4 separate regions of the Homo sapiens genome follow, and all the other regions are linked to region 1. Evidence: fine-mapped expression QTL. A gene starts in region 1. Each other region holds a variant in brackets. All regions are shown on one strand. Distances are from middle to middle. Region 1 holds the start of HIPK2 (homeodomain interacting protein kinase 2). Region 2 overlaps HIPK2 (homeodomain interacting protein kinase 2). Region 3 has its middle 24 kb from the start of TBXAS1. Region 4 overlaps HIPK2 (homeodomain interacting protein kinase 2).

Region 1 (7,920 bases):
AGAGCCAAGTCTCAGCCTCGGGGGCATGGCCTACCTTCCATATGGATTTAAAATGAAAGGAGCAGGAGGAGAACAGTGCAGTTCCCAAGATGGCTTTCCACAAAGTTGACAAAATACACCCCAACTCACATACCCGGTCCCTAGTAACAGGGAAACCAGCCGTTTACTATAGTTCTGAATTCAATGCCAAGTTCCTTCTCTCAACTCACCGGGAGTGTCCAGCAGAGGGAGTCTCAAGGAGGTACTTAATAAAGAGAAAATTGTTTCATTTTAACACTCTAGACAGTGGGAGCATTGACTGTAGCCCCCTCCTGTAGACGCAGATGAACAATGAACGCCCGACATGGGTTCTCCCGCATGTTCACATGTCCACCGGCATGTTCTATTCTGCGTGGTGGAGTGATCAGAAATTTCGTTTTGTTTTGTCGAATGGTTAAATGGACCTTGTGTTCTTCAGAATCAAAGAGGAAAGCCCCTGGAATAACATCTCTCTGTTGCCTTCTAAACAGCCCCTTTGTTTCTAAGAGAGTCTGAAAAAAAAATATTTACAGTCTATAGGTTATTTACAGCCTCGTTATCCAGGGCCTGACTGGTAACTTTATTCCGGCCAGAAACCTAATTCATTTGGAGCCCTGAAACTAATAACAGATTTTCTTTTAAGTTTTTTTTTTTTTAATCAGCCTCTTATAACAGAGATAAAACTATTAATGCCTTCCCTGTCTCACTGGCCACAACTGTTCTCCGGATTTACAGGAGGATTACATTCCCCCCTCGTGCCCTCCTCTGTGCCACACAAACCCTGTCCCCTCTCATTTGCGATTTCATCCACAGAATATCTGAACAAAACCGAAAGAAAGCCGGGGGACCCACGCTAAAAGTATGTGAAGGCTGCGATTTCAATGATTTCATGAGACAAACATTTACACGATGAAACGACTGAAAAATCAGACACACTTGGGTTTAAAATTTCTCCTACTACAAGCACACAAAAACACATCGAAGTGTAAAAACTTAGTTGATTCTGGGTTGCTTTCTGGCTGGAAGCTGACAGAACGGACTGAAGAGAAACGAAAGACAGTGTGCGAGGCAGACCTACTGCTTTTCTGCCTTGCGTTCTTTTCTTTCTTGCTAAAGGCAGTCAAATGGGGAAAAATACCCCGATGCCAGGTGAAGGTGCACAACACAGATCGACCCAGACCGAGCCAGAAAAACGTCTCCGCCGCTCCCCCGGCTGGAAAACCCAAAGTCCACGTCCCCTTCCACACGCTAATGAGGGGAGATTTTCGCCTATTTCATTGTTCTGCCTGGCTCTGACATGGACTTTTCATCTCTCTCCTCTCTCCCCACCTAGCCCCGTGCATTCCGATTCCACAGCCCCCCCAAAATCGGAGGCTCGCGGAGAATAAAGGAGCGTGGGGTGGGCGCGGAAAGAAATGGGAAGGGGCGCGGGGCGGAGAGCGAAGTGGAAAGGAGGTGCTCCGAAAGGTAATGTGGGGGGGCGGTGGAAGCTAAGCCGCATCACCTTCATTTATCGCAAATAAATAAAAAGCACAGTCACCGGTCCGCCTTCCCCGGCGTCCCTGCCCTCCCCGGGCAGCCGCCCACCCTCGCACACGCCCCCTCCCCTCCTGCGCCCCCGGCCCCTCTCCCCGCCCTGGAAGCAAGACCCTGCCGGCGCCGGGTCCCGGTCATCTTCCGGGCGAGGGAGGGGGTCGCGGCCCCCTCGGGCCCCGGGTGGGGGCTGGGGCAGGCGCCGGGGGCTGCGGGCGCGGGGCCGCGGGCAGAACAAAGCTGCGGGGGCCGCGGAGGGCGGCGGGCGCGGGGTCGGCGGGGCCGGGCGCCCCTTACCTTCGTACACGGGGGCCATCGGGGCCGGGGTGTCCGCGGTTCATGGCAACGGGGACGGGAAAGCGGCGCGCGAGCTCGGCCCCCCCAGCCTCAGTCGGAATCTGCCATCTTGAGCCTGTGTCTCCGCTCTCGGCGCAGCCGAGGCCGCCCGCGCCCGCATCACCGCCTCCCGTGGCCGGCGCCGGGGGAGGGGGCCGGGCGCGCCGCCGCCGCCGCCGCCGCCGCTGCCGCCCGGGCCCGGCGCGGGGGGCTCGGGGCTCGGGGCTCGGGGCGGCCGGGCGGGCGGAGCGGCCGAGGCCGAGGCGCCGAGCGGCCGCGGCCCCCGAGCGGATCCGCGGAGGGGCGGGAGCCGGGGGCAGCGCGCGGCCAGGGCCGGCGGGGCTCAGCTCAGCATGGCTGGGCGCGGGGGCTCCGCAAAAGTTGCTGGCGGAGGGGGGCGGCGGGCGGGGGCGGGGGCGGGGCGCGGGGCCGGGAGAGCCACAGGGAGTCCGCGCGCAATCGAGCGCCGATGGCACGGATGCGAGGCGGGGAAGGCCGAACCGAAGGGCAGAGCCGCGCCGGCGGCCCGAGGGGACCGCGCTGGGAGGGGCTGCCGCGCAGCGCGGGGGGACTGGGCGCAGGGCGGGCCCCGGGTAGTGGGTGAGAGGGCCGGCCTGGACCCGGCGGGCGCACGGCTCCGAGCCCAGCGCAGCCGAGCCGGTCTGCAGAGGGGCCCCCAGAACTTTGTGTGTGTGTGTGCACGCGCGCGCGTGTGTGCCCAGGTGCGAGGGTTCGCGCGTGTGCTGGCGGGGAGGGAACCGACCCGAAAGAGAGCCCCACGCTGGCAAAGTGGCTCGCCCATCTCACAGCCGGTTGGCGCTCGCGGAGGTAGGAGTGGAATGAATGAATGAAGGAGTGGGCGCGCGCCGTGCTCCGGAGGAGGGCGGGTGAGTGGAGGAGCTTCGGAAAGCCACACGAGGTCAGAGGCACCGAAGCCCTGCCGTGCACGCCGCGGAAATGCAGCCCCCGGGGTGGTCGCTGGGTTCCTGCCGGAGTCTGGCTTCCACGCCACCCTGATCTTCTCCTCCTCGCGTCTACACTGTCCCGAGGGCCGCCACTCCATCACTTGAATGGGAGCTCACAACTCTCTGGGTCCTCGCTTTTCTCAGCGCTCTCTCCTATCAGGGCTTCCGCTAAACACTCTCCAGACTCTCCCCAGCCGGGAGCCTCTCCAGGTTTGCTTCTCCAGCTGCCTCCCGGATGCTTGGATAGGATGCCCTGCCATCCCCTCCAACTTAGGAAGACTTGTTGAGTCTCCTCTTAGGCACTGTTTTTAAAACTGTGGGTCGTGACACAGTAATAGATCATAAAATAAATGCAGCGGAAGGCAACCAGCTTTCAAAAAGAACGAAATGGAATCCAATAGAAAATATTAGAGTCCATTGCCCTTAGTAAGGGCAACTATTGTTTCATAAACCTTTTGTTTCGATTATAGGTACTGGACAAGTGTACTGGACCATGATGTCAATTTTATTTCCGTCTGTGAATCGTGGGTTTAAAAAAGTTGAAAAGCTATCTGTGTAAAATAATGATCTCTAACACTGTATAACTTTCTTAAAAACAACCTCGTGATTTTCTCACTACTTCTTATCCTTTCCGGTCTCCATCCTCCGTTCCCATCCTTCAGTCCTTCCCAAAAAAGGCAAGCTCTTTCACACTTTTTTAGTGGTACATCACGACACCTTCCTCTGTGTGATCTTGTACTCTGCGGTCTTCCTTGCCCCCATAATCAATGCTACACTTCCTATCCCTTCTCTTAACCTAATGCCATTCACGTTTGCAGAATCCTAGACTACTGTTGCTAAAAGGACCTCAGAGGTCATCTGGGCCAGCCCTGCCCTTTTAGAGTTGAAGAAATGGAGTCCAGAGAAGTAAAATCTGTTGCCCAATGTCACACAGTATTGAAGCTTAGGAATAGGTCTCGTGGCTCCCACTCTAGTGTTTTTTGCTCCACACCGGTCATTTATCTCCTTCCCTTCTATCCTCCCTGCAATCTTTAACTTTAGTCTTGGCCCAGGTCATCCTAAATATTGCCATCTTCATAATACGTGGTTCTGGCCATGCCACGCTCCTGGCTAACATCCTCTAAGGACTCAACCTCTGCAGGTGGGGCTGAGTGCCTTGGCTTTTCATCAAGGCAGGCGAGTCCTGACTTAGCTTTCTAAGGACATGAGTTCAGCAAGTCACTGCTTCTCTAGCCAAACTGGTTTACTTGTAGCCCAGTGCCAGCTTCACCCATCTCTGTCACTGTGCCTTTGCCCAAGCGGTCACTTTCCCACCCACTTTCCCAGAGGGGTACCTTCTCCATCTTCTCTCTTTAAGCAGATTCTACCTGTGCCTGGCTCACCTCCTCCACAAAACAGCCCGAGATAGCGTGGGAGTAAGTCAGACCTAGGTTCAAATCCTAGCTCTTCCACTTAACTATGTGATCTTGGTCAAAATGCTTAACCTCTCTGAGCCTCAGTGTCTGTATTTTGATTATGAGAAGGAGAACAATAGTAATGTTCTCCTTTTGCATCTGTAAATCTCTATCATAGCCTTCACCACACAGGTATGTAACTCCCTGTTAATACATACCCTACATGCATGTCTCTCTGCCCCTTTCTAGTGCTGGCCATTAGAACTTGCTGCCATAATGGCAGTGTAGCTACTTATGTCTGTGGAGCACATGAAATGTGGCTAGTATGACTGAGGAACTGAATTTTTAATTTTAATAACCATGGGTGGTTAGTGGCTACCATTTTGGACAAGGTGTCTCTAGACTGTAAGCTCAGTAAGGACAGAAACCATGTTTTTCTTGTTTTGGATTGTATGTCCAATAACTGCATTGCCTAACGCATGGTGAGTACTGCACACATATTTGTTGAATGGATGATAGCTGCAATTTGTTGCATGCTCCCTTGTGTCCAGCACAACACTACAAACTCGATAAAAGGCATTTCATATAGTCCTCATCACAGCCTCTGAGGCTGGGTTAGATTAGAGAGAGAGTTTTATATAGAGGGCAGACACATAGTAGGGGTTCAATAAAAGTTATTATTATTCTAACTCCTCCCTCTGACCAGCCCCACTGACTTTTGTCTCATCTTTCCTTAGGCTCACAGAACATTTCCTGCCTGTTGCTCACACTCTGTTGTCCACAGCATACCCGCACCCTAGATGGCTGACTCTTGTCTTCTGTGTAGGTACCCTGTGTTCATAACTGGATTGGCAGCGTCTTGGAGCAAGGCCCTGCTTTATAGGACTGCCCCTGAATTCAGCACTGACCAGTGTTCAGTAACTGCCTCTAAGTCCATCCCAGCTGCTGTCTAGCAGTGAGTGATTCTAGGCAGTCTTAAAATGAATATCACTTGTGTCAACCGAAAACATTTTACAGGTAGTCTCCTCCCCATAAGAAGGGAACAATCTTGGGCAAGGAAATAGAGTCCCATGGAAGGGGAACAAGATGGAGCCATACAGACAGAGGTCCACCTTCTCTTCAGACCACCATGACTGAAGCTGTATCCATGAGATGCAAAACATGCATTCAATTGAGCTAGCGAAGTTCGTATGATATAACGGAAAAATATTCTTGAAATGAGCTTAGATTTTCCTTCATGAATTGGCAGACTGAGTATACTAATTGTCTCCTTTCCTTCCGGTGACTGCAGTCAAGTGGCAGCAAGGTATAAACCTAACAGTGAAATGTCACTGAAGGAGAGCATGGGAGCTGGGAGGAGAGAGGATCTGTGACAGAACCTGGGGAGTACCAGTATTTGAGACATGGGAAGAGGAAAAAGAGCTCCCCATGGACAAGAGGGCAGAGAAGTTGGAGGACAGCCAGGACGGGGGATTCCTCAACATCCCAGCAAGGTCAACAGTGCTGCATGCTATTGAGAGGCCCACGTCAGATGAAAGCAGAAAAGCAGCTGGGTGCTGTGGCTCACGCCTGTAATCCCAGCACTTTGGGAGGCTGAGGCAGGCAGATCACCTGAGGTCAAGAGTTTGAGACCAGCCTGGCCAACATGATGAAACTCCATCTCTACTAAAAACACAAAAAAAATTAGCCAGACGTGGCGGTGGGCACCTGTAATCCCAGCTACTTGGGAGGCTGAGATAGGATAATCGCTTGAACCCAGGAGGCAGAGGTTGCAGTGAGCCGAGTTCTAGTGCCATTGCACTCTAGCCTAGGCAACAAGAGCTAAATTCCATCTCAAAAAAAAAAAAAAAAAAAAAAAGGCAGAAAGGCATCAATTGGATTTAGCAACAAGAGTTGCATTAGTGACTTTGGTGAAACTAGTTTGGAGGGAAATACAGGTTTCTTAAATTCTACCTGAATATGTGTCCTGTTTTATGGGTGGAGATAGTAGAAGGATGGGGAGGGCTAAGGAGGTACCAGAAAAGAGCACCAGAGATTGCTCCAAGCAGAGAGGGCCTTACCAGTCATGGGCCTGAGACAATGAGAGGGGTCTGGGAGCTGTCCCATTTGGCTAGAGATAGTGTGCATTGTATTTTATTTATTTAATAAGCACATTAGCAGTCAGTGTTCTAAGGAGTTTAATCAATCATTTAAAAAAATCACTTTTTTTTTTTTTTAACAGTACATGGAACTCTAGGTTGCCAAAATACCATTTAACTTCAGGGTGCATTGAAGAACAATAATAAAGGCAAGAAAACTGGAAAGGATTTAGTAACCATTTATACCAGTTACCTCTCCTTAATTTGCCTTTCTACAAAATGGTGCAAGTCATATCTTTCTCAGGAGTTGGTAGAGTGAACATGGGGGAGCTTTGACCTCATTTCAAGTTCATTTTGCTTACAGGACATGGAACAAAGGGTCTTTTTTTTTTCATGTATGCCTATAGTTGTGAAACTGCACAACATCACAATATCTTCAAGGCCACAGGATAGAGATAACCCTCTTTTTGGTGTATGCATTTAGGTGTGTATGTCTCTCTTACTCTCAGGGTATTCTTAGCATGATGTCTGTGTGGCTTGTATCTTATTCTCACTTGGTGTGTGTTGCTCTTATTTTCCTGACAGCTCTTTATTTTCCATGTGTGAGCCTGTGCCTGTGGTTTATCTCTGGAGGATGTGCCTGAGGGAGGTAGGTCACTATCTCAAGTTCTGTCTTTTGATATCACACCTCTCTTTTGGTCTCTTGCTGTATCTCTATTTTCCTCTCTTTCTGACTGTGTGTCTAATTTTCTTTTTCTCTGTATCTTTCTATCTTTTCCACACATTCTTTATTTCTTCTTCCTCTCCCTTTATTTTAATTCTGTTTCTTAACAAGTCATAATAGAGACCTATTTTTGTTTGGATTATTCTTAAGAAATTACCTTGTCTTTCTGCTTTAAACCTTTGATCGGTTTCAATGATACAGTTTGTAACAGAGTAGTATTTAATAACAAAACTCTTTAACTGAAAGCTTCAGTAACAAGACATTACACTCACAGAGAATTTAAAAGAGTAGACATTTCATTCAAATGAGGAACAATAGAGCTGTGGCTTTAAGGGCAAAGGGGAGAGCGAGGCTTGGCAGGGTGAAGGGAATCTGATTGTGGAAATGGCAGTCTTGGAGAAATTACACTGGCAAAATCAGGGGAATAGGGAAACATCATTCATTTTTCTGCTTTTGCTCCTAGAAGAAAAATGATCAGACACCTGAACAGGGGTGCAGGAAAAGCAAAGCGATGCCATAAGAGCATTGAGCAGAAAGGAAATATGGCAAAAAAAAAAAAAATGCAATCAGCCTATGAATGAAAAGAAGCTGTAATGTAGATGCACAGAAGGTAGGGCGATTTTGTTGGAGGTTGCGGGAATGGCAGATTAGGATGGATTTGCACATGAGAAGCAGTTCAGAGAAGCAACCCAACCCTGCAGAGAAATTTCTGTGATTATGGGAGGTAGGTAATAGCTTGGTTTTCCTGACCTGCAGTCCAGGCTGAACTTGGACAGACTAGGTAGAAATGGTGCAGAAAGAAGCTTGGGGTGGAGGCAGAAATAAAGGTAGACTGAGGAGAGCTCTTTTAAAAGCCTGCAGGTCCTGTTAAG
Region 2 (7,920 bases), 39 kb before region 1:
GGACGCGGAGAGCACACCCTCCTGGCACAGATGCCCTCTGCTCTGCCCTGATTCCCAGGGAGGGCATCTCCAAGGCCAGAGCTGACCTGAAACAAAATCAGCTCTCAGGCACTCCTAGGAGTTACTGTCCTGGGCCAATACCCTTTGTTGAAGCTGGGAGGATGCTATCGAATAACATAAAAACTTAATGCCTACGCTGGAGCTATGGAGTACAACAGGAACTACAATCCTACAAAACACAGCAACCCTTGCGGAACCACAAAGGCCAATCAAAGCCATTTACCCAACTAGGGTGCCTCATGTTACGCATAAGATATTAACAGAGAATGTCCGAATGTATGTTTTCCTTCCAACGGCTGGATGCAGGGAAGCTCTCTGGTTCTTTCACTAGCATCAAGTATACTCAATTTACTCCTCCAAACAAGCCACACAGGCCCAGCGCTAAGAGTCTTCCCTGTCAGTTCTCAAAAGGTGGTCAAGGGGTAGAAACTCTGTTGCCATCTTGCACCATACGGCTCTCAGCAGCTCGCCTTGTGGTCCTGACCTTGCCAGCCAAGCCCTTTTCATTCCGTTTTAGTTAAGCAGAAAATGAAGCTATCAGCTCCATTTCCACTCTCTCTGCATGAATTCATTTCCCTTTTCCATCCTGGCTCAAACTACATGGCTCATATAGTATTCCTACCGAGGTCTTACCTTGCTAAAGATTCTTCTCTTCTAAGACTTGCTGAATCCAAACAAAAAGGTGGGAGGACGTATGAGGATACATTCTAAGGGGCAACTTGAAATATAGGAAAGGATACAAGAATAATAAGCCCGTTGATTTCTTGTTTCCCAGCTTTTACACCCACAAAATCCTAAGAATTATTAAGGGATGGGGAATGTCTATGGAAGTGAAGTCAGTGACCCAGGAATCTGTTTTCCATACCTACTCATGCCATGAAATCCCATTAAGTCACCAGAAATCCCCTGGAGGATAAGCTCTAACACCAGTTAGTGAAAGAATAAAAATCACTGCAATTTGCTCATTACCCCAGCTTTTCACCCAAACCATGGCTGAAAATCGCTAGAAGCCCACCTTTCTCCTGGACTGCAGGAAAATGAGCTGCCAAGGGCCCTGCACATCCGGCCTCTGCTACACCAGGAGTTTGGGGCCGGAAGCTCCCCAGTGCCCCATTGGTCCTGGGCCGCATGAAGTGATTCAGAGCTACAGGGTCACGACTAAGCCATAAAATAAGAAACAAAGAACAAAATGAGCCTTTTCTTAGTTGCAAGCTAAAATTTGGGGAAAGTGATTAGAAAAAAGAAAAACAGTGCGGTTGCTGGGAAGGCCAATTTCCTTTTACTCACAGGAAATCTTTTCTGCTGATTTAAGAGCAGAGCCACACCTGCTCACAGACCAAATGTCAGCACAGGAGGAAGCTGCACCTTGAGTTATTCAACCAGTGACAAAAGCATTAAAACAATTCTGAGCTAAGGAAATTCAACCTGGGCTCCAGGGCCCAGACCCGATCCATCTGCACATGAGTTAGAGAAAGGATTCGAGTTTATGGAAAGAAAGGGCATAGGAAAGGCACAGGCTCAATTCAAGACTTAGCAGTCCTGTTTTATACATGTTCCCTGAGTACAGACCAGCAGATCTGGGCTCACAAACAAGACCCAAGACCTCCATTCTAAAAGGAATGAGAACTCCACCGGGTCAACTGACAAAACTGGAATGTAAACAGTGGCTCAGATAAAAATATTGTATCAGTGTTACATTCTCTTCAGTTGATCTCTGTACCATGTATGAGAGCGCCCTATTCTTGGGAAACACACGCTGAAGCATCGGGGGTAACGCGGAGCTGTCCAGAGGAGCTCTGTGTGCTGCTGAAGAGGTTCTGTAGTCTCTATTGTCTGATGCAGCCACACATGTGTCTATGCAGCCCTTGAAAATGTGGCTGGTGTGACTGAGGAACTGAATGTAAAGTTTTGTTTAGTTTTAATTTAAATAGCTACTTGTGGCTAGTAGCTACCATTCTGGATGGTGCCGGAATAAAGCACCATGATATTTGTAACTTACCCTCGAGTCATATAACGATCATTCGTGTGTCTGTATATACAAACACACCACAGGCACACACACAACAACCAAAAGAGCAACAGTGAGAGACAGCACATTCAAGGGCATGACAAAACAAATGGGGTGAAGTGATAACAGGAAAATCTGGATATGGGGTATAGGGGAGGGGAATCTGGGTATAGGGGTAGTCTTTGTACTATTTTTATTTTTGCAATTTTTTAGTAACTTGGAAACTATTTCCAAATAAAATGTTTTTAAATGTATAAGGATGAACATTTATTTATTAATCACTGAAATCTACCAGGCAAAAAGAGGAACTCATTTCCGGGCAGGGAATGGAACCCAGGATGTCCAAGACATTGGCAAATTTTGAATGAATATTGTGGAGGCCACAGGACACTCCTCTCTGAACACTGCTCCTCCACACCCATGGCACAGTGCTTCTCCCACAGTGGCAGAATAAATGCCCTCGCCCAAGATAAATTTTCTGACTTCTTTCCATCTGACCTCTAGCCTGTCCATGAAGGACTTGGCTACAAAGGTAAGTTTCGGGCAAGTTTTGTTTTTGAAACAGGGTTTCACTATGTTGTCCAGGCTCAAACTCCTGGGATCAAATGATCCTCCTTGCCTTAGCCTCTCTATTTGCTGGGACCACAGGTATATGCCACCATCCCCAGCAGGGCAATTTTTAAAGTAACAGCTTTATGGACATAACAACTCACATACCATAAAGTTCACATTTTAAAAATGTACAGTTCAGGCCAGGTGCAGTGGCTCATGCCTGTAATCCCGCATTTTGGGAGGCTGAGGTGGGCAGATCACATGAGGCCAGGAGTTCAAGACCAGCCTGGCCAACATGACAAAACCTCATCTCTACTAAAAATACAAAAAATAGCAGGGTGTGGTGGCACATGCCTGTAATCCCAGCTACTCGGGAGGCTGAGGCAGGAGAATTGCTTGAACCCTGGAGGCGGAGGTTGCGGTGAGCCAAGATTGTACTGCTGCACTCCAGCCTGGGTGACAGAGTGAGACCCTCTCCAAAAAAAAAAAAAAGGTATAGTTCAGTGGTTTTGAACACAATTGTGTGACCATCACTGCTATCTAATTTCAAAATATTATCATCACTCTGATTATCAGAAACCCCATACCCATTAGCAGTCACTCCCCATTCCCCCTTCCCACAGCCCCTGGAAACCATGAATCTCTACTTTCTATCTCTGCGGACTTGCCTGTTCTAGACATTTCATATAAATGGTATCACACAATATGTATATGTCCATCTGGCTTCTTTTGCTTAACATAAAATTTTCAAGGTTTACTCATGTGGTAGCATGTATCAACATTCCATTCCCTTTTATTGCCAAATAATATTCAGTGGACTATTACTGCACACTTTGTGTATCCACTTGTCAGCTTATGGACATTTGGGCTGCTTCTCCTTTTCGCTGCGATGCAACCATGTGGACACGTGTTTTTATTCCTCTCGGGTACATACCTGGGAGTGGAACTGCCAGGTCAGGTGGCGACTCTATGTTTAACCTTTTGAGGACCTGACACTTGTTTTCCAAAGTGGCCTCCTGAAGTCCCCAGGAGTCATGCAAAGTCCCCCAGAGGTCCCAGGCAAAGCGCACAGAAGGCCCTTCTGCAGAGATGCTGCCCTTCTGTCCTTCGGTAAAATACCAGCCTAAATTCAAAGCAGGAGTCAGGGTTTGTTTGATTTGAGGTAAATAAATTAGAGAAGCTGTGACTCGCTCAGTGCCAGCAGCATGCTTAGCCTGGTATCGCCCCGGAGAAAGAGCCAGCACCTGGCATGGCAGACGAGGGTTGGCACAATGCATGCTTGCTTGCCAGATGAAGAGGCGCTCTGTGCAAAGTGCAGCTGCAGCAGGACGCAAACTGGTGCTCTCTCTACCGTCCCTCACCAGGGCAAAGCTGTCTGTGCTCCTGGTCAAAGCCTCGGAGGACTTATTTGCTGTCATCCACACACTGTGCTCCGGAAAGTGCCTGCTCAGAAACTGGCAGGGAGAAGACCCGGAGGGAGTGAGGACCATGAGAAATCAGAGAGCA[A/G]CTAGACAAGGAAGATATCAAAAGAGACGGGTCCTTCGAGGCCTGCACACCTGTTAGTCCTAATATATTTCAGAGCAAGGGATCAGACTGGTGCACACATGGGCTGAAGCCCAGGGAAGGAGCCAAGTCCACCACCAATGCAACTGGTGAGTCAGTATCAGGCATGTGTCCCCTCCAAGCTGGCAGTAAACAAACACTCACACTTCATGTTTGGGCACTGGACTAAATTACCAGGCAAAAGTACAAATTCCGGCCAGGCGCGGTGGCTCATGCCTATAATCCCAGCACTTTGAGAGGCTGAGATGGGCGGATCACTTGAGGTCAGGAGTTCAAGACCAGCCTGGCCAACATGGTGAAACCCCACCTCTACTAAAAATACGAAAATTAGCCGGACATGGTGGCAGGTGCCTGTCGTCCCAGCTACTCAGGAGGCTGAGGCAGGAGAACTGCTTGAACCCTGGAGGCAGAGGCTGCAGTGAGCTGAGATCGCGCCACTGCACTCCAGCCTGGGTGAGACTCTATCTCAAAAATACAAAGTACAAATTCCAAAGCTAGTTAAGCAAGCTTGGGGGTTGGTGAAGAGTTGGTGAGGAAAGGAGGATTTCTGCAGAGAAGAGCAGAAGTCCTGGAATGGCTGGCTCTCTCTTTCATTCCCTTCACTTTTCATCCATGTGTGCGCCCTGGGGAGACACTCGGTTTCATCTTAGAGTCACTGTGCTGAGCCTCATAGGCCTCTTCTTTCACTCTGGACCCCATCCTTCGTATCGTCCTGTCCTCTTGCAACATTTCACTTGTCCTTCACCTTTGCCCCCTCGGGACAAACTTTGTTGGCAGGCCTGGCATTATTTTTGTTTTTGAAGATATTGTATTTCAAAAGCAAACTGCTACATATTTAATAAAGAAAGCTCAACCACAGTTTGACGCGGTGGGGATGCAGAAGTGGCAGGCAGGTAGCTTGAGATCCTGAATATGTCCTACCAGTGCACAGCCTGTTCCCTCAGCCCCCATTAATCTCCACACTCTAGCCTGTCCCACCTTTGTTATTTCTCCAATTCCGTGAACGTTGATCAGTTCAGTATAGCTCTGAATTTTCACAGGTAACTCCTCCTGTCTCCTGTGCATTCATTTTCTCAGTCACTATTCAATAAATACTCAGTATGATCACCACCATTCACGTTTTGTTGTTTGTAATATGGTTCGTCTTTTGAAATCATAGATAAGTGGCACAGAACCTGGTATGATGAAAAATGTCAGAGAAAACAAAGATAAGAACGTGAACTTGATCTTTACATACACTCTCTCATCTAAGCCTCACGGCAACCCTGGGAGGTCATTATTATCATCCTCACCTTACAGAAGAAAGAGATCCAGAGAGACTGGCAGGATTCGCTCCCCCAAGGTCATGAGCTCGTAAAATCAGAGGACCTGAATTCAAACACATGTCAGTATGACCCTAATGCCTTTACATTTTCCATTAGGAATGTAAATGACAACATCTTTAAAAGTCATAAACCCTTACTCAGCCACGACATGGTTATAAATTGTAGAAAGAACAATGGAGTGGGAGTTAGAAAATTTGGCTTCAAGTCTGGCTTTGTGTTGATTTTGAGCAAGTCACTTAATATTTCTGAACACAGATTTCTTCTTCCATGAAGGAGGCCATGCTTACCAAACTGGGCTGAGTGTCCTGTGAGGTGCTAATATTTATTATGAAAAAAGAAGAAAAAAATGAGGTCAAAACAGTTTAAGAAATGCTGGGTTAAATCAAATAAAGCGGTTTTCTTTTTTGCAGGACTTCTCAGAGGCTTTAATATCGCAGTGCACACCGTGGATCTCCAAGAGGGATATACAATATGCTCTGAAGCCCAAATTTATTTACCAAAGGGAAACTTCTTTTTTTTTTCTCCATACAAAACACTTACTCTTTTTTGTCAGGATAGGAGATTGAAAAATAATGGATTGGATAATCCCCAAGGAATCTTTTAGCTCTAACAATGGGTAATTTTCTGATTTATCTTATCATTCCAAATGGACAGCAGATTTTCTGAGGGTAGAATGTGCTTTTCTATGAAATCAAGAAAATAGCAGCTAGGTAGGGGCATGCCAGAATGTTCAGAGAAGCAAAAGGAGCATGAAGACTCATCATAGACAGCTGTTCCTATAAAAGACTTGCACATCTAGGGGTATCTTCTCCCCTTTAAAATAAGTCAGCATCATCCAAATGCCATTGGGCTGGCTTTGTCTTCCAAAACAAATTTCCCGGGCATTAACAGAGACTATAAACTGTCTTGACTGACTTATGAGGAACAATCAATAACGTCTGTCCAGGACCCATCAAATCCATGTCTAAGGAAAGGCCAAGTCTTTAGGACAGAAACGTGGCATGGCAGTTTCACAAACTAGTGGAGATGGCTCTCTGGAGGACAGTCTAGGTGGGACTCCCAAGGCCTTCACTGCTTTGCAGGCACCTCTTCCCCAGGTGTGCAGGAAGAGACCCCAGCCAAAGAAAACCTAAGAGGCTTTGTTGGGGAGGAACAGGGGACCCTGCCGGACCCTGCAGGTTTCCCTTTCCCTACTGGCTGAAAGGGAGGGCTGCACACATCAGGGAGGAGAAATAGAGGAAGAAGATGATGGGCACAAAAGCAGAGGGGCAACAAAGTACAGATCACATCTTGGGGGCACAGGGTACAGTTCTCAGAATAGAGAAGAATGTCCAGGTCAAAGGTTTCCTAGAAAACTCCCTTCTCTTTAAAACAGACACATGATTTTCCTTGGGACATTTTTATATACAACTTACAACTGCCAGATCACTCTTGGAAAATCCGCTGCTCATCTTGGCAGTGGCAGTGGAAAGAAGCCAGTGTCCTTAGACATATCTCTTTGTGGGCCCCAGCCCCAACATGCAGGTGTCCATAGCACAGGACAGAGGACTCCATGCAGCCAAAAATCAGTGCAGTTACCCCCTAAGTCCTCCATCTAGAAAAAAATGAGACTTGGTAGTAGCCACTGCCCTGTGGATTCAGCCAGAGCCCATCTCTAGACCCCACCTATCCCCCTGCTGTTCCAAGTTCCAGACTGGGGCTCCAGGATCAAAATGGCTCAGGGCTTTGTGCTAAGAAGAGCTCTGAACAAGACATAAGGGGATGGTTTAAGACTCAGGATGCTGAGGATTAAGTGTCTGGGCAGTTAGTTCCAGAGGTCACCTAAAAGACTACAGGGTTCTGCGAGAGACCTGGAATGAGGAACTAACATTGATTGTATGCCTATTTAAAAGCCAGGTACAACATCCAGAGTATATAAAGAACTCTTACAACTCAATAATAAAAACACAACCTAATTTTTTAAATGAATGAAGAACTGAATATACATTTAGCCAGAGAAGACATACAAATGGTCAATATGCACAGGATGATCATTATTAATTATTAGGGAAATGCAAATCAAAAACACAATGGGATACCAAGAAAACTGAAAACATATGTCTACACAAAACCATGTCCACTAATGTTCACAGGAGGATTATTCATAACAGCCAAAAAGTGGAAACCACCTGCATGTCCATCAAGTGATTAACAGATAAGCAAAATGTGGTATATTCCTACCGTGAAACACTATTTGGCAATACAAAGCAATGAAGAACCGATACCTGCTACAACATGGATGAACCTCAAAAACATCATGCTAAGCAAAAGAAGCCAGACACAAAAGATCACACATTGTCTGATTCCATTTCAATGAAATGTCCAGGACAGGCAAACCCATAGAGACAGAAAATAGATTAGTGGTTGCCAGGG
Region 3 (7,920 bases), 26 kb after region 1:
AAAATATTTTCTTTTCTAATATCTTTAAATAGCTCTTCTGTTCTTTTTTTCTCTCTCCTTCAAAACTAGATTTCTATCACCTGTCTTTCTATGTCTAGACCTTGTTTCTGATAGTTTTGATCTCTTTGTCCTTTTTTTTTCTTTTTTGTGAGGCAGGTTCTTGCTCTGTCACCCAGGCTGGTGTGCAGTGGCACAACTCAGCTCACTGCAACCTCTGCCTCCCAGGCTCAAACAATCCTTCTACCTCAGCCTCCCAAGTAGCTGGGACCACAGGCACTTGCTACCATGCCCAGCTAATCTTTGTCCTTTTCTTTTGCATTACAGAATACAGTCCTATGCTTAGCTTTCTTTTCACTGATTGAATTATCTTCCATTGCCAGTTGTAACCACTGTGGTTGCTAAGTTTATTTACAATTCTTCCATGTCATTATTATTATTATTTGATACAGAGTCTCCTTTTGTCACCCAGGCTAGAGTGCAGTGGCCTGATATCTGCTCTCTGCAACCTCTGCCTCCCAGGTTCAAGCGATTCTTCTGCCTCAGCCTCCCAAGTAGGTGGGACTACAGATGCACGCCACTGTGTCTGGCTAATTTTTGTATTTTTAGTAGAGATGGGGTTTTACCACATTGGCCAGGTTGGTCTCAAACTCCTGACCTCAGATGATCCACCCACCTTGGCCTCCCAAAGTGCTGGGATTACAGGTGTGAGCCACCACGTCCAGTCACATTATTTTCTTAACTGTGTCAACTCTCTCATATCACTTTGTTGGCTTATCTCATTCTTACCTTTTATTTCATGGAGTCTGAGATTTTTATCTGTCCCTCCATCAAATGTAGTTTAAATATTGTTTTAAGTGTTGTTCAAATGTATTTCCATTTTCTACAGTAACATTTTTTCTTTAAAATATTCAATTTTAACACTTCTTGAGTGCTACGTGTATCCATTTTCTCGTTACAGAATAGTTGCATAGGTTACACGTGATATAGTTTGGCTGCATCCCTAACCAAATCTCATCTTGAACTGTAGCTCCCATAATCCCTACATGTTGTTGGAGGGACCCAGTGGGAGGTCATTGAATCATGGGGGTGTGTTTTTTCCATTCTGTTCTCGTGATAGTGAATAAGTCTCTAGAGATCTGATGGTTTTATAAAGGCCAGTTCCCGGCTGTTCGCAGTGGCTCATGCCTGTAATTCCAGCACTTTGGGAGGCTGAAGTGGGTAGATTACCTGAGGTTAGGAGTTCAAGACCAACCTGGCCAACATGGTGAAGCCCCATGTCTGCTGAAAATACAAAAATTAGCTGGGTGTGGTGGCGTGTGCCTGTAATCACAGCTACTCCAGAGGCTGAGGCAGGAGAATCACTTGAACCTAGGAGGTGGAGTTGCAGTGAGCTGAGATCACTCCACTGCACTCCAGTCTGGGTGACAGAGTGAGACTTGGTCTCAAAAGAAAAGAAGAAGAAGAAGAGGAAGAGGAAGAAGAAAGAAGAAAGAAGAAGGTGGTGGCAGTTCCCCTGCACATGCTCTCTTGCCTGCTGCCATGTAAGATGTGCTCCTCCTTTGCCCTCTGCCATGATTGTGATGCCTCCCCAGCCATGTGGAACTGTGAGTCCAATAAACCTCTTTTTCTTTACAAATTACCCAGTCTCTGGTATTTCTTCATAGCAGTATGAAAATGAACTAAACAGTAAATTGGTACTGGTAAAGTGGGGTACTGCTGTAAATATACCTGAAAATGTGGAAGTGACTTTGGAACTGGGTAACAGACAGAGGTTGGAACAGTTTGGAAGGCTCAGACGAAGACAGGAAAATATGAGAAAGTTTGGAACTTCCTAGAGACTTGTTGAATGGCTTTGACTAAAATGCTGATAGTGATATGGACAATAAAGTACAGGCTGAGGTGGTCTCAGACGGAGATGAGGAACTTGTTGGGAACTGGAGCAAAGGTGACTCTTGTTATGCTTTGGCAAATAGACTGGCAGCATTTTGCCCCTGCCCTAGAGATCTGTGGAACTTTGAACTTGAGAGAGACGATTTAGGGTATGTGGTGGAAGAAATTTCTAAGCAGAAAAGTATTCAAGAGGAAGCAGAGCATGAAAGTTTGGAAAATTTTCAGCCTGATGATGCAATAGAAAAGAAAAACCCATTTTCTGGAGAGAAATTCAAGCCTGCTGCAGAAATTTGCATAAGTAAGGAGCCCAATGTTAGTCACCAAGACAATGGGGAAAATGTCTCCAGGGTATGTCAGAGACCTTTGCAGCAGCCCCTCCCCTCACAGGCCCAGAGGTCTAGGGGGAAAAAATGGTTTCCTGGGCCAGGCCCAGGCCCCCACTGTGTGCAGCCTAGGAACTTGGTGCTGTGAGTCCCAGCCACTCCAGCTGTGGCTAAAAGGGGCCAAGGTACCACTTGGACTTGTGGCTTCAGAGGGTGCAAGTCCCAAATCTTAGCAGCTTTTACATGGTTTGAGCCTGCAGGTGCAAAAAAGTCAAGAATTGAGGTTGGGGAACCTCCACTTAGATTTCAGAGGATGAATGGAAATGTCTGGATGTCCAGGTGGAAGTTTGCTGCAGGAGCAGAGCTCTCATGGAGAACCTCTGCTAGGGCAGTGCAGAAAAGAAATGTGGGTTTGGAACCCCCACATGGAGTCCCCTCTAGGGCACTGCCTAGTGGAGCTGTGAGAAGAAGGCCACCATCCTCCAGACCCCAGAATGGTAGATCCACTGACAGCCTGCACCATACACCAGGAAAAGCTGCAGACACTCAACTGGGAAAGCAGCCAGAAGGGGGGCTATACCCAGCAAAGCCACAGAGGCAGAGCTGCCCAGGGCTGTGGGAGCCCAAGCTTGTGTCAGCATGCCCTGGATGTGAGACATGGAGTAAAAGGAGATCATTTTGTAACTTTAAGGTTTAATGATTGCCCTATTGGATTTCAGACTTGGATGGGGCCTGTAGCTCCTTTGTTTTATGGCCAATTTCTCCCATTTGAAATGGATGTATTTACCCAATGCCTGTATCCCCATTGTATCTAGGAAATAACTAACTTGCCTTTGATTTTACAGGCTCATAGGCAGAAGAGATTTGCCTTGTCTCAGATGAAACTTAGGACTTGGACTTTTGGGTTAATGCTGGAATAAGTTAAGACTTTGTGGGACTGTTGGGAAGGCATGATTGTGTTTTAAAATGTGAGGAAATGAGATGTGGGAGGGGCCAGGGGCAGAATTATATGGTTTGGCTGTGTCCCCACCCAAATCTCATCTTGAATTGTAGCTCCTGTGTGTCATGGGAGGGACACAGTGGGAGGTAATTGAAACATGGGGGTGGGTTTTTCCTGTGCTATTTTCATGATAGTAAGTCTCATGAGATATGATGGTTCTATAAACGGCAGTTCCCCTACATATACTCACTTGCCTGCCACCATGTAAGACATGCCTTTGCTCCTCCTTTGCTTTCCACCATAATTGTGAGGCCTCCCACCCATGTGAAACTGTGAGTCCATTAAACCTCTTTTTCTTTATAAGTTACTCAGTCTTGGTATTTCTTCATAGCAGTATGAAAATGGACTAATACAACATGTTTGTTTTTCCCTCTTAATATATTTTGGAATGAGGAAAGATCTCTCTTGACTATGCATTCCCCCAAAAGTAATGTGAATGGATTTCACAGCTTACCTGAAGTCAATTAGAATAATCCTTTTCCATCTTGAATTGGAGGATGGAATGAGATAAGTTCAGTGATCCATCAGGCAGATGGGTGTAGCAGGGATCCTGGTGGTGCTGGGGGTGTCCTAACAGCAATCCTGATCACAGCCATCAGTGGCGCTAGCCAGGTGCCAGGCCTGATTTGGAACATTGCATGTGTGTTTCCTTGTTTAATCCTCACAATCACTCTATGAGGTATATATATTATCATCATTCCCACTACATAGATGAGGAAACTGAGGGCTCAGTTAAGAAAGTTATCCAAGCTAATAATTAGCAGAATAAGCATTCAAACCCAGACTATCTGACTCCAGAATTCATGGTCTTAACTTTTATGTTATATTGCCTCACTTGCTCCTGGGCCTGGGGCTCCAGTGCCACAGCCCCCAAGGTAGGAGTGCTTCCTGTTCCTCAGTGGGCTCAACCTGAGGGTTCAGT[G/A]GGATGGACCTTCCACTTTCATCCCATGACACACAACTCTTTGAAGTGAGTTGAATTGTGAGTCTTCCTTCTAGTTCCTCCTTGTCTTAATATCTAGAATGAAAGTCTAGAACACATCCCTAGATTTTCTTTCTCTCTCTTTCCTTCCTTCTTTCCTTCCCTCCCTCCCTCCCTCCCTTCTTTTTCTCTTTCTTTCTTTCTTTCTTTCTTTCTTTCTTTCTTTCTTTCTTTCTTTCTTTCTCTCTCTCTCTCTCTCTTTCTTTCTTTCTTTCTTTCTTTCTTGTCTTTCTTTCTTTCTTCTTTTTTTTTTTTGAAACAGCCTGCTGCCCAGGCTGGAGTGCAGTGGCTCGATCTCAGCTCACTGCAACCTCTGCCTCTGGGTTCAAGCAATTCTCCTGCTTCAGCCTCCCGAGTAGCTGGGACTACAGGTGTGCACCACCATGCTTAGCAAATTTTTGCTTTTTTTTTTTTTTTTTTTGAGATGGAGTCTCGCTCTTTCACCCAGGCCAGACTGCAGTGGCGCTCTCTTGGCTCACTGCAAGCTCCGCCTCCTGGGTTCACACCATTCTCCTGCCTCAGCCTCCCAAGTAGCTGGGACTACAGGCGCCCGCCACCACGCCTGGCTAATTTTTTTTTGTATTTTTAGTAGAGACGGGGTTTCACCATGTTGACCAGACTGGTCTTGAACTCCTGACCTCAAGTGATCCACCTGCCTCAGCCTCCCAAAATGCTGGGATTACAGGCATGAGCCACTGTGCCTGGCCTATGTTATTTTATTTTATTTTATTTTATTTTATTTTATTTTAGAGACAGGGTCTCACTCTGTCACTCAGTCTGGAGTGCAGTGGCACAATCTTGGCTCACTGCAATCTCCACTTCCTGGATTCAAGTGATTCTCATGCCTCAGCCTCTCGAGTAACTGGGATTACAGGCGCGCTCTACCATACCCAGCTAATTTTTGTATTTTTAGTAGAGACAGGGTTTTGCCATGTTGCCCAGGCTGGTCTTGAACTCCTGACCTCAAGTGACCCAGCCGTCTTGGCCTCCCAAAGTGCTGGGATTGCAGGCATGAGCCACCGTGCCTGGCCTGTTTTTATTTTGGTATTTTTAGGAGTTTCTAGGAGCTGGGGATTGAACACCTATGCTCTGTTCCCCTTTTTCCAGGTCTCTCCCTCTGCCCTGTCTCCCTCTCTGTCTCCTGCTTCCTGAAACACTCTTCTGCCTTGCCTGCCATTCTGCTTCATTATCTCCAGGGTCTCTGGCTGTGCCCTCCCCATCCTCCCTCTCATCTGTCTGCACCTTGATTCCCCCTTGGCTCCATTCTCAGTTGTTCTTTTCTGTCTCCGCCCTCCTTGGTGACCTCACACACTCTAAAGCTTTCACCGCCATCCACACTGGTGTGTGGTCCCTGGCCTCAGCCCAGATGTCTCCCAAACTTCCTTTGAACAGTGATTGTCTGCCGAATGCTTCTACCTAGGGGGTTCACAAACTGGACAGCACACACTCCCATATGGAACACTGCACTGGTCACCTTTTCTCATTGAATGTGCCTTCCACTTGCTGGGGAGTCATCCTGGATTCCTGCCTCTGGTCTGGCCACTCTGCAGTCCAACTGCCCTCCCTGCTGTGGGCAGATGATCTCTCCCTTCCTCGAGTCCTCCAAAGCCTCCAGCGCCAGCTCTTCCATGTGGTCTCAGAGGTCATCAGGGATTTGATCACTTTTCACCTCATTGAACTTTGCTCTTTGCTGGATTCTGTTTCCTGCTCTGCCACCCAGGCTGGAGTGCAGTGGCACGATCATAGCTCACTGTATCCTTGAATTCCTGGGCTCAAGTGATCCTCCAGCCTCAGCCTCCTCCAGCCTCAGCCTCCTGAGCAGCTGTGATTACAGAGGTGTCCCACCACACCTAGTTAATTTTTTTTTTTTTTAGATGGAGTCTCGCTCTGTCACCAGGCTGGAGTGTAGTGGCGCAATCTCGGCTCACTGCAACCTCCGCCTCCCGGGTTCAAGTGATTCTCCTGCCTCAGCCTCCCAAGTAGCTGGGACTACAGGTGCCCACCATCATGCCCTGCTAATTTTTTGTATTTTTAGTAGAGACAGGGTTTCACCATGTTGGCCAGGATGGTCTCGATCTCTTGACTTCGTGATCCACCCACCTCAGCCTCCCAAAGTGCTGGGATTACAGGCGTGAGCCACCGCGCTCAGCCAATTTTTTTCTTTTTTTTAAAGACAGGGTCTTGTTGTGTTGCCCAGGCTGGTCTCAAACTCTTGGCCTCAAGCGATCCTCGTGCCTAAACCTCCCATGTATTTTCCCAGCTTTCTGCACAGCTTGGAGTTCCCTGTGTTTATTTTCCATGGCCTTGCCCCTGTCTGCTGGTAAATGGCCTTCTGGGGAGGGGAATAATCTCTGCTCTTTAGCATTTGCTGACATCTGTGGTGTAAATATTCCCATCACCGCCAATCTCAAACTACTAACATGACTTCATTGAATGTGGAGTTGGGTAGAGATGTTCAATAGCCACCATTAGACAGTATTTCCACCTTACAGATACAATAGACCTAAAACAAACCCTCAGCCAGGTGTGGTAGCTTATACCTGTAATCCCAGTATTTTGGGAGGCTGAGGCAGGTGGATTGCTTGAGCCCAGGAGATTGAGACCAGCCTAGGCAACATGGCAAAATCCCATCTCTACAAAAAAAAAAAATGCAAAAATTAGCCAGATGTGGTGGTGCATGCCTGTAGTCCCAGATACTTGGGAGGCTGAGGTAGGAGAATCACTTGAGCCTGGGAGGCAGAGATTGTGGTGAGCTGAGATCACACCACTGCCCTCCAGCTTGGGTGACAGAGTGAGACCCTGTCTCAAAAAAACAAAAACAAAACCCTCAAGGGCATAGATAATAGTAAATAGTAGTAAAATAATTAGGGAGTGATATATTTTTAGCATTTATTATCTTTAGTATTTTGTATTTTAGTATTTATAACCTTTATTTTTAATATAATTTATTTAATTGTAAACTTACATAATTTAATTATTAATAATGACCACATGTAACAGCTTGCTGGCAAAATTCCTGAACACTTAGCGAGCAGCCCTCCTGAGCTGGTTTGAGCTAGCTCCAGCGTGCTCCTGGCTCCCCTTCCTAGAGATCCCTCATCTCCACCGACATCTGGTCAATACTTATCCTTCCCTTAAGTCAGCTCTGCTCACAGTGGGAGTGTGTCCCTCTGCCACTCCATCACTGCTCTCCCCACATTGCAATGATCTATTTACACACCTGTCTCACCTCCTATTCCATGAACTTCTTGAGGGCAGAGGCTGTGTCTCATTTATCTTTGTAATCCCAGTATAGTGCCTGGAACATAGTACACATTTGGTGAATTATGATTTAAAGAATTGATGGTGCCTTTTCTGTTAGCACTATTCTTTTCTCATCTATCTCTATTTCTAATCACTTTGGGAAATGCTCTTGGCTGCATGATGAAACAGAGTGCCAGGTCTTCATAAAAAAAAAAAAAAAAAAGCTTGTTGATTGGGTAAACTCACCAAGCTGACTAGAGCAGTTTTAAGTATAAATTGTTTACTCATATACTGCCTGTGGCTATAGAATGCAAATTAATCACTTTGGCAAAGTGTTGTATTAGAGTTCTCCAGAGAGACAGGACCAATAGGAGATAGGTAGATAGATAGATAGATAGATAGATAGAACCAATAGGAGATAGATGATAGATAGATAGATAGATAGATAGATAGATAGATGATAGATAGATAGATAGATAGATAGA
Region 4 (7,920 bases), 83 kb before region 1:
GTGAGAAGATGCAAAGCTTTTGGAGGCAGAAAGACTCCAAAGGCTCTATCACTTAGTGATTATAGGATTTGGGGCAAGTTACTTAACCTCCTTGAGCTTGTTTCCTCATCTACAGAATGGAAAAAATGCCTTGTGAAGAACAGAGAAAATGCATGTAAAATTCCTTGCATATAACAGGCACTTAATAAATGGCAGCTAGAGTTAGAATTTTAACTCAATGAACACAGATACAAGGAGCCTTTTAACTGGAGCAAAGAGAATTAAACTCTAAGTAGAGCACCTAAGTGCATGTCTGTGTTTGAACACATTTCATCACATTTATAATAACCCTGAGGGATTAGGAAGGGGTTCAGTTGGAGAGAGAGCAGCACTTGGTAGAAGAAACGTGTGTCTGGGGGTCAGACACACCTGGTTCAAATCCCAGCAGCACTACTTCTAGCCTTGTGCCACTTGGCAGTTGGTTTCCTCAGACTCAATTTTCTCATCCACTAAATGGGGAGTTGTCCCAAAGATTAAATGTAGGCCTCTGGCCTTTAGCAGATGCTTATTAAAATGCCAGTGCCATTCATTCCCCTTCGTCCTCTACTCTATATCAGAAGGTATGGGATGCTATGATGTCTTCCTGTTAAATTTTTGTCCAGAAAAAAAAAAAAAACATTTTAAGTATGGTGTTGAAATGGGTAAGTTTTAGTCACTTGGGAAATGTATACACACATGATATCTTTATTCTCCAATAATGTGTGACTCAGGTAAACATTTCTAAAAACATGTGCACTTATCAGATACTAAAATGCAGTATCCCGCAGGCAGCAGGCACTCAATAAATGCTTGCTGCAAACTGAACACATGAAAGGAGTGATAATCCAACTCTAAAAACAAGCCACTTCCACATGCATAAAGAGTGCAGTCTTTCCTTGAAGTGACTGATTCTAAACCGAGAAGAAACTTGGAACTGCAAAAGCAGAAATATACTTTTTTTCCTATTCAATAAATCATCAAGAAAGGTTAAGTCTGAAGGGTCTGCATTACTCAGTACAGAAGGTTTCTCAGATTTCTCTTTTGACCTGGCTGTAATAGATGCACTTCGAATTAGCAAAAATTCATCTGCTCTTTCTGACTCATGAAATAAACGGATGAACTTTAATCCATCCTCCTGTAACTCTCACAGTCTGCCATGCTCCACTCTGCCAGAGACACGTGTGTCCTTACACGCTCCACAAGACACCAGATATGTATCAACAGAGCAAGGTTCTGTCACCTAGCCCAGTGATAGATACCCATTACCAACACAAAGATACCTCAGATCGATGATCATGACGTATCCCAGCAACACACGGCTCAGAGCTCCGACAGGTGTCTCCTCCCAAGGCAGGACCAAAGGCACGGGGCACTGTCATGCTGAGGGGTCATTCCTGCCCCAGCCCAGATCCACCTCTGGTCTCTGGAACCACGTGGGGAGTCTGTTGTGGTCTGCCTGGGTCTCAAAGCGTTCTCGCCACCTGCCAAGGTTCACTGATTGAGACAAGCCCACCATTCCCTGGTGGCCTGATCATTCCTGTGCGCATGGTCCATGGTCACATAAAAACAGAGATGGGGCACTCAGCTATGATAAATGGGGGAGGTAGTGTCTGCTTTGGTTTAGTGGAAAGATGTCAGTTGAACAGAGAAGGTGGAGGATGAGGGCTGGAAGGTGCAGAGTGAATGGGCAGGAGGACAAGGCTCTGCCTGTTAACCCCAGGACAGGTGACTGGCAACCATTTATGGGGCAAGGCAATGGCCTAACAGTTGCATGCAGACATTACAACAGAAAAGGAACAGTCAAACAAGGAATATCCTGCAAAACTGCTGAACCTGTGATATTTATCTGCCTCAGAAAACTGTTAAAACACAGAAATCCACAGGCTCGCCCCCTATTATATGGCCTGCTAATGTTTACTGGCATTTTTCCTAGCTAGCTGCTCCTAAACGTGCTCTTGCCTCTGGCTGCGAGGTTCGCCATTTTGTCAAGAAAACAAAACGCCTGTCTGTAGCTCAGTGCACGGACTTCACTCACAAACACCATCTCCATGAAAAAGTAATAAAAGTGAAATATAGTTTATTAATATTCATACTGTCTCCCACTGCCAGCAGCCATAAGTGTTCCATCATTAGAGGAGCAGGCTGCTTGCGGGCCGATTCCCAGGGAGCCGTGGTCCTCGTCATCAAAGTGACCATCACAGTGGGTGGCTCAGAACGGAGGGTTAGGCCTCACCGGAACTGCACGACTACTGTGTGGCCCGGGGCTGCCTTTCACCACCCGCTAGTTAGACAGCCTTGGGGGCTCGCCACTCCATCTCTTGGGGCCACCATGAAATGGGAAATGGGGCTGAGAACGCCAACCTGATTGCCTGACATCAATGCTACATGGGAAGGAAACCTCTGTACTTGAGAATAGAAGTAGATATATTTAAGCTTGAGGACATTAAAAAGTTATTCAAGAGGCCAGGGGAAAGCAAAGAATCAGAACAAATCAGAACTGCTCTACAGAATGGTTTACAGGACAAACAGTTCATTAAAACCCATATAAACTTCCAAGAGTAGAAAGAACACACACTCAAGATGAAAATTTAGGAAAGGAGGATTTACAATAGTTCCAAAATATAATCTGCCAAAGATGTTTTGGACAAATTACCGAAAACTATGGAAGAAGCATGACTCAGGGATGAAATGGCTACAAAACCACAGTTCAGTGAAATCCTGTCCCACAGCTTAACTGTGATCAGAGTGATTTCTGTCTAATTTTCTGCACTGGACTCTCCTTGGGGGAAGGGCCTAGTTCTGATTCATCATAGCACACTGTCTTGCTCCTAATAGGTGTCCAATAAATGTTTCCTGAATTAAGGGGGGAAGAAAAGTATTAACAAATCAGGATTTGAGGAAGAACAGACATTCTAATCAATGTTTAAGACTTCGGAGAACTGGCCAGAGGGAGAAAAAGTGTGCTGCAGATGAACAGAAGGAAACCAAGGCAAAGAGAATGTACCCAGAAAGCCATTGATAACGTGATGTTTGTTGAAGGTCAGTGATTTTGTTGATAGTAGGGTGGGGGATGCAACTACGTAAATACACAGTGGTAAGATGCAGATTTCTTTCTTATATAAAGGCCTGTGACAATGAAATATAATTATCCATGTGGCAAACCAGGAATGGGAAGAGAAAAAAAGCAGTCTTGGCTGGGCAGGGTGGCTCACATCTATAATCCCAGCGCTTTGGGAGGTGGAGACAGGAGGATCACTTGAGGCCAGGAGTTTGAGACAAGTCTGGGCATCATAGTGAGACCCCCCGCCACCAATCCCTACAAAAAATTTTAAAAACTAGAAAGGCACAGTGACACACACCTGTAGCCCCAGCTACTGGGGAGGCTGAGGGAGGGGGATGGCTTAAGGTCAGGAGTTTGAGGTTGCAGTGAGCTGCGAGTGCACCACTATACTTTAGCCAGGGTGACTGAATGAGACCCTGCCTCAAAAAAAAAAAGGTAGAAAAAGAAAAATGCAGTCTTTTCTGATTAGGGAAGATAGTTGATGATAAAACAAAACCAAACCCAGATACTTTTCACTTCCTCTAAATGGCAGCACAAAGAAATGGACATAAAAGTAAAGGGGGCGGGGTGAAAAGAGTAAAG[G/C]GGGAAGAGTCACACAGGCTGAAAGGAACACTCACATCTTCCTGGCGTCAACACTCAGAGGTGACACGTTTCAGAGCATTGCTTCCTCAGAGAGATGAATGTTTCTGTGCATCCCCACAGGCCAGGCACTGCATGTGTGGATTTCATCTAATCCTTAAAACTTCTATAAGACAGCATTATGATCCCCAGTTTAGGGGTCAGGAAGCCGGGATGCAGAAAGTTAAGTAACTTGCCAAGGACACACGAGGGTAGTCAGTTGCAGAAATGGAATTTTATTTAGGCTTACCATCTCTAAAGCCAACTATACCACAGACTTTAGAATTATTGAAATATCATAGACAAAATACTCCCCCTTTCGCCTCCTCCCCGACCCCCTGCCAGGGATCAGTCCTTCTTGTAAGACAGAGAGAGCACCCAGAGGCAGCTGGCCTGGCTTTACCTCCTGCCTCGCTGTGCACACTACACCTGTTCTTCAGATAACACCACCACTTCCATCAGGGCAACGCCGAGCTCTGCTTACACACAGGTGCCCAGGGGCCTCAGAGAGAGCTGCAGTAAAGCTGCTCCTTTTCTCTCCGAGTGAAGGAGAAAACAAAATATTTACCTTACTGTTTCAGCCTACAGCCGGAAAAGTATAAATCATCTTCGCAAATCTGCTTTTGTCAGGATTTATAAAATCAGCTCCTATGGCGACGACACAAACACAGCTCTCAAAGATACTCTCATTCTACCTGGCATCTCTAACAATGCTAGGTCCCACGTACAAATAAACCAAAAAGGGCCTGAATCTCAGTTCCTGGTAAAAATCTCATCCCATTCCTACTTAGCCTAAAGGTTTTTTTTTTTCTGTTTAAAAAATAATTAAACAGAAAATTAATTTTTTTCCCTTTTCTGTTTAAAAAATAATTTATTGAGGTGAATCACATGCGTAAAATTAGTCTTTTTAAAGTGAACAACTCAGTGGCATTTAGTACATTCATCACTCATAACGTTGTACAAACCATCACGTCTATCTAGTTCCAAAATATTTTCATCATTTGGAAGTAAAATCCCTTATCTATTAAGAATTTATCCTATTATCCCCTCCTCCCAGCCACCAATATGCATTCTGTCTTAATGGAATTTTTTTTTTTTTTTTTTTTTTTTGAGACGGAGTCTCGCTCTGTCGCCCAGACTGGAGTGCATTGGCACGATCTTGGCTCACTGCAGCCTCCGCCTCCTAGGCTCAAGTGATTCTCATGCCTCAGCCTCCTGAGGATTACAGGTGCACGCCACCACGCCTGGCTAGTTTTTTGTATTTTTAAGTAGAGACAAGGTTTCGTTATGTTGGCCAGGCTGGTCTTGAACTCCTGGCCTCAAGTGATCTGTCCATCTTGGCCTCCCAAAGCGCTGGAGTTACAGGCATGAGCTACTGCACCTAGCCATCTTAATGGATTTTTCTATGCTGGGTATTTCATATAAAGAGTATCATACGATACGTGTATGCCTTCTTTCACTTAGCATGATGTTTTGGGTGTATGTTCATGTTGTAGCATTTATCAGTACATTTTTCCTTTTCGTGGCGAAATAATATTCCATTGTATGTCTATACCACCATTTGCATATACGTTCATCCACTGATGGACATTTGGGCTGCTTCCACCATTTGGCTGTTGTAAACAGTGTTGCTATGAACATGCATGTACAAGTATTTGTTCGAGTCCTTGTTTGCACTTCTTTTGGGTGTATACCTAGGAATGGAATTGCAGCAATCATATGGCAATTCTATGCTTACGTTTTTGACGAACTGCCAAACTGTTTTCTACAGTGGCTGTGCCATTTTACATTCGTACCAGCGATGTAAGAGCGTTCCTGAAAAAGTTATTTTAAACATAATTTATGAAACAAAAATCCTGAAATGATTTTCATTAACACTGACCTTTGTAGCTCATGAAAGGATTGGGCGATTTATATAACAGCTTTCCTTCAACAGGCCCTGTGAAATCTCTAATCCTTACCACCCACCCCGCCACCATCAAGTACAGGGAATATGTTAATCACCAGCACAGACACCCAGAAAGGTTCCAGTCTAGCTCCTTGACCAGGACTAACACCCAGGACACAGCTATAGAACAAAAGTTCCAAACCTCAAAAGTTCCATCAAATGCAAGGAGGCATATATTATACCACAGATTTTACATGCAGCAAGAAGTTACAGCAGAGAAGAGCAGAGTGCCCAAAGAAAGATGAATAGAGAAATGAAACCTGAGTAGGACCTTGAAGGACGGGTATAATAAATAATAAAAACGACGACCCACGCAGAGCACACAGCACCACAGCTGCCACGATCCGAACAACCTGCTTGACTGAGGGCGGCCCAGCCGGCTGCCGACGCACAGTAGCTTGGGCAGCAAGAACCGTGAGACAGAGATACTGGAGAGTGGCACCCGCCATCTCTCCCACCAGCCTGGGGCAGTATCTCATTTCCCCAGGGCCGCAGGGAGTACATCTCCTGAAAAAGATCTCCCTTCCTACTTGCTAGGAAAGGCGATGTTGTCATGTTTCATTAGAAACATTCAATTTCTATGGCAAAACAAACTCAGCAATCCTCACGCTGTGCAGGCGAAATGGAAAGTATTTAAGTGTGGTGAGTCTCGCTTGCTAGATGGAAAGGAGGATAATGTGAATATGTATAGGCTCCCTCCCCGCCTCCTCTTTATCACCTGGGGAAGAGGACCATGCTTAGGCCACATGTACCTGCCATCCACAGCCTCCAACCCAGCAAGAAGTTACGTTTTGTCCAGGAGAAGTCTCACTAAGGAGCAGGAGAGTGTAAGCCCCTCAGGTACACCCTGCTATCAGGAGGCAAGGCTGGGCCTGCAGCTGGGGAGGGTGGAGCTGGCATAGGTCCCTCTGCACCAGGCACAAGGTGGCCTTTCCCATGGCAGAACCCCTCACCCTTCACCTTTGGTGATCTTAGGAGATGACTGCTGTCCAGCTGGCATGGCTGTCACCTGCATCCCTCCCATTGACATTCTCAGGGTCAATTCCAGGCTGCCCCAGGTCTGAATCCCTCACAGCACTGGGTCACAATCTGCGCACGCCAGGGGTGTGCGGAGTGAATGCACAGATGTGCCCTCCCGGGAGGCACACCCTGGAAAACATGCATGCTTCCTGTGGCTGCACACTATGCCACCTTTGTCTGGGGCACTGAATCATTAATTCTGGAGCAGGGGCAGTGCTGCTCTGTGCAGTGGTGTCAGCATCATCATTGCCTCGGACAGAATGGAGCAGTGATGCAGATATACGACGTCTGTGCTAACCAAGCATGAGGTTCCCAATGGGACAGGAAAACAAATCCTCAGTGGCGCTCTCTAGAGGGCAGGACACTTGCCTGTGCGAGGTGGGGGGAGGGGAGGGCTGACGTGAGACTGCTGAAATCAGACGTGTTTTCAAGGGTGCCTGAGGCCAGGCCTTTCTAGAGGAGCTGGGGGTTTCCTGCTGTGCACACCACAGCCTGGGGACCCTCAACACGCCTGCTTTCTGCAAGGAATCATCTGGACAGAGTGGGACACAGAGGCTGTACCGTTGTAGTGGTCACCAACATGTGGGTGACCTGAGGCCACGCACTGACCACACAGTGCCCTACGTGATGGGGACAATAAGGCTGCAAGAGCTACCTCAGAGCTATGATGACGGTCACAAAAAGCCCTTTCCTGCAAATACTCAGAAAACGTGAGTCACCATCATCAGCAACGACCTGCTTCAATACAAACTCTTATGTTTAGTTCAAATAGAGAGCCATGCACCCAACTTCTTAAATGGGTATTTCCTTTGTGTACATCCACGCTGTATTTTCTGAAATCTGCACGTTTACAGTTAACCCTCCCACTCTGGTCAATCTATAAATGATATTTCCTCTCCTCAGTTCATTTCTCTCGTGAGGCTTTCTCAGCAGAATTCCCCTCTTGGTCCATGTGGGACTGAGTCTCGCAGGCAGCACTGCGGCTCATTTTTCTGAGGCCTTCCTGTTCCTATGCTCTCACTCAAACGGGGTGTGCCCAGAAGAGATGGTCTCTCTCCAAAGAAGCCCCAGCACATTCCTCAAACCCAGAGCGGCCTCCTCCTTCTGCAGAGCCATGCACATAGTAGGTATTCAAAATCACTTGCAGAATAAACTTTACGAAGCCAAGCACTGAGAAGAAAGAAAAGACAGACCTTTCTATACAAACCTTGACATGCAATAGAAAGAGAAACAGTTCGGAAAAATTTAAAAATAG

What was found. PIP is the estimated chance that this variant, and not a neighbour inherited with it, causes the effect.
Region 2: its variant is fine-mapped to the expression of HIPK2 in whole blood (TOPMed, PIP above 0.99).
Region 3: its variant is fine-mapped to the expression of HIPK2 in regulatory T cells (Schmiedel 2018, PIP 0.95).
Region 4: its variant is fine-mapped to the expression of HIPK2 in whole blood (TOPMed, PIP above 0.99).

The regions. Positions count from the first base shown.
Region 1 is chr7:139,775,757-139,783,676 of GRCh38, forward strand. It overlaps HIPK2 (homeodomain interacting protein kinase 2), which reads right to left and starts at 2,242. Exons shown (of 15, transcript NM_022740.5): 1 at 1,849-2,242. The coding sequence starts at 1,867. It also overlaps a transcript of TBXAS1 not described here. RefSeq lists silencers at 1,838-1,927, 2,358-2,587.
Region 2 is chr7:139,736,488-139,744,407 of GRCh38, forward strand. The region is part of intron 1 of HIPK2 (homeodomain interacting protein kinase 2); the gene reads right to left. Among named protein-coding and RNA genes, the nearest start is that of HIPK2, 38 kb to the right of the region's middle. The variant A/G (reference allele first, on the strand shown) is at 4,127.
Region 3 is chr7:139,801,340-139,809,259 of GRCh38, forward strand. It overlaps a transcript of TBXAS1 not described here. Among named protein-coding and RNA genes, the nearest start is that of TBXAS1, 24 kb to the right of the region's middle. RefSeq lists an enhancer at 5,651-5,945 and a silencer at 7,217-7,417. The variant G/A (reference allele first, on the strand shown) is at 4,136.
Region 4 is chr7:139,693,081-139,701,000 of GRCh38, forward strand. All of the region lies in intron 2 of HIPK2 (homeodomain interacting protein kinase 2), which reads right to left. Among named protein-coding and RNA genes, the nearest start is that of HIPK2, 81 kb to the right of the region's middle. RefSeq lists an enhancer at 1-254. The variant G/C (reference allele first, on the strand shown) is at 3,662.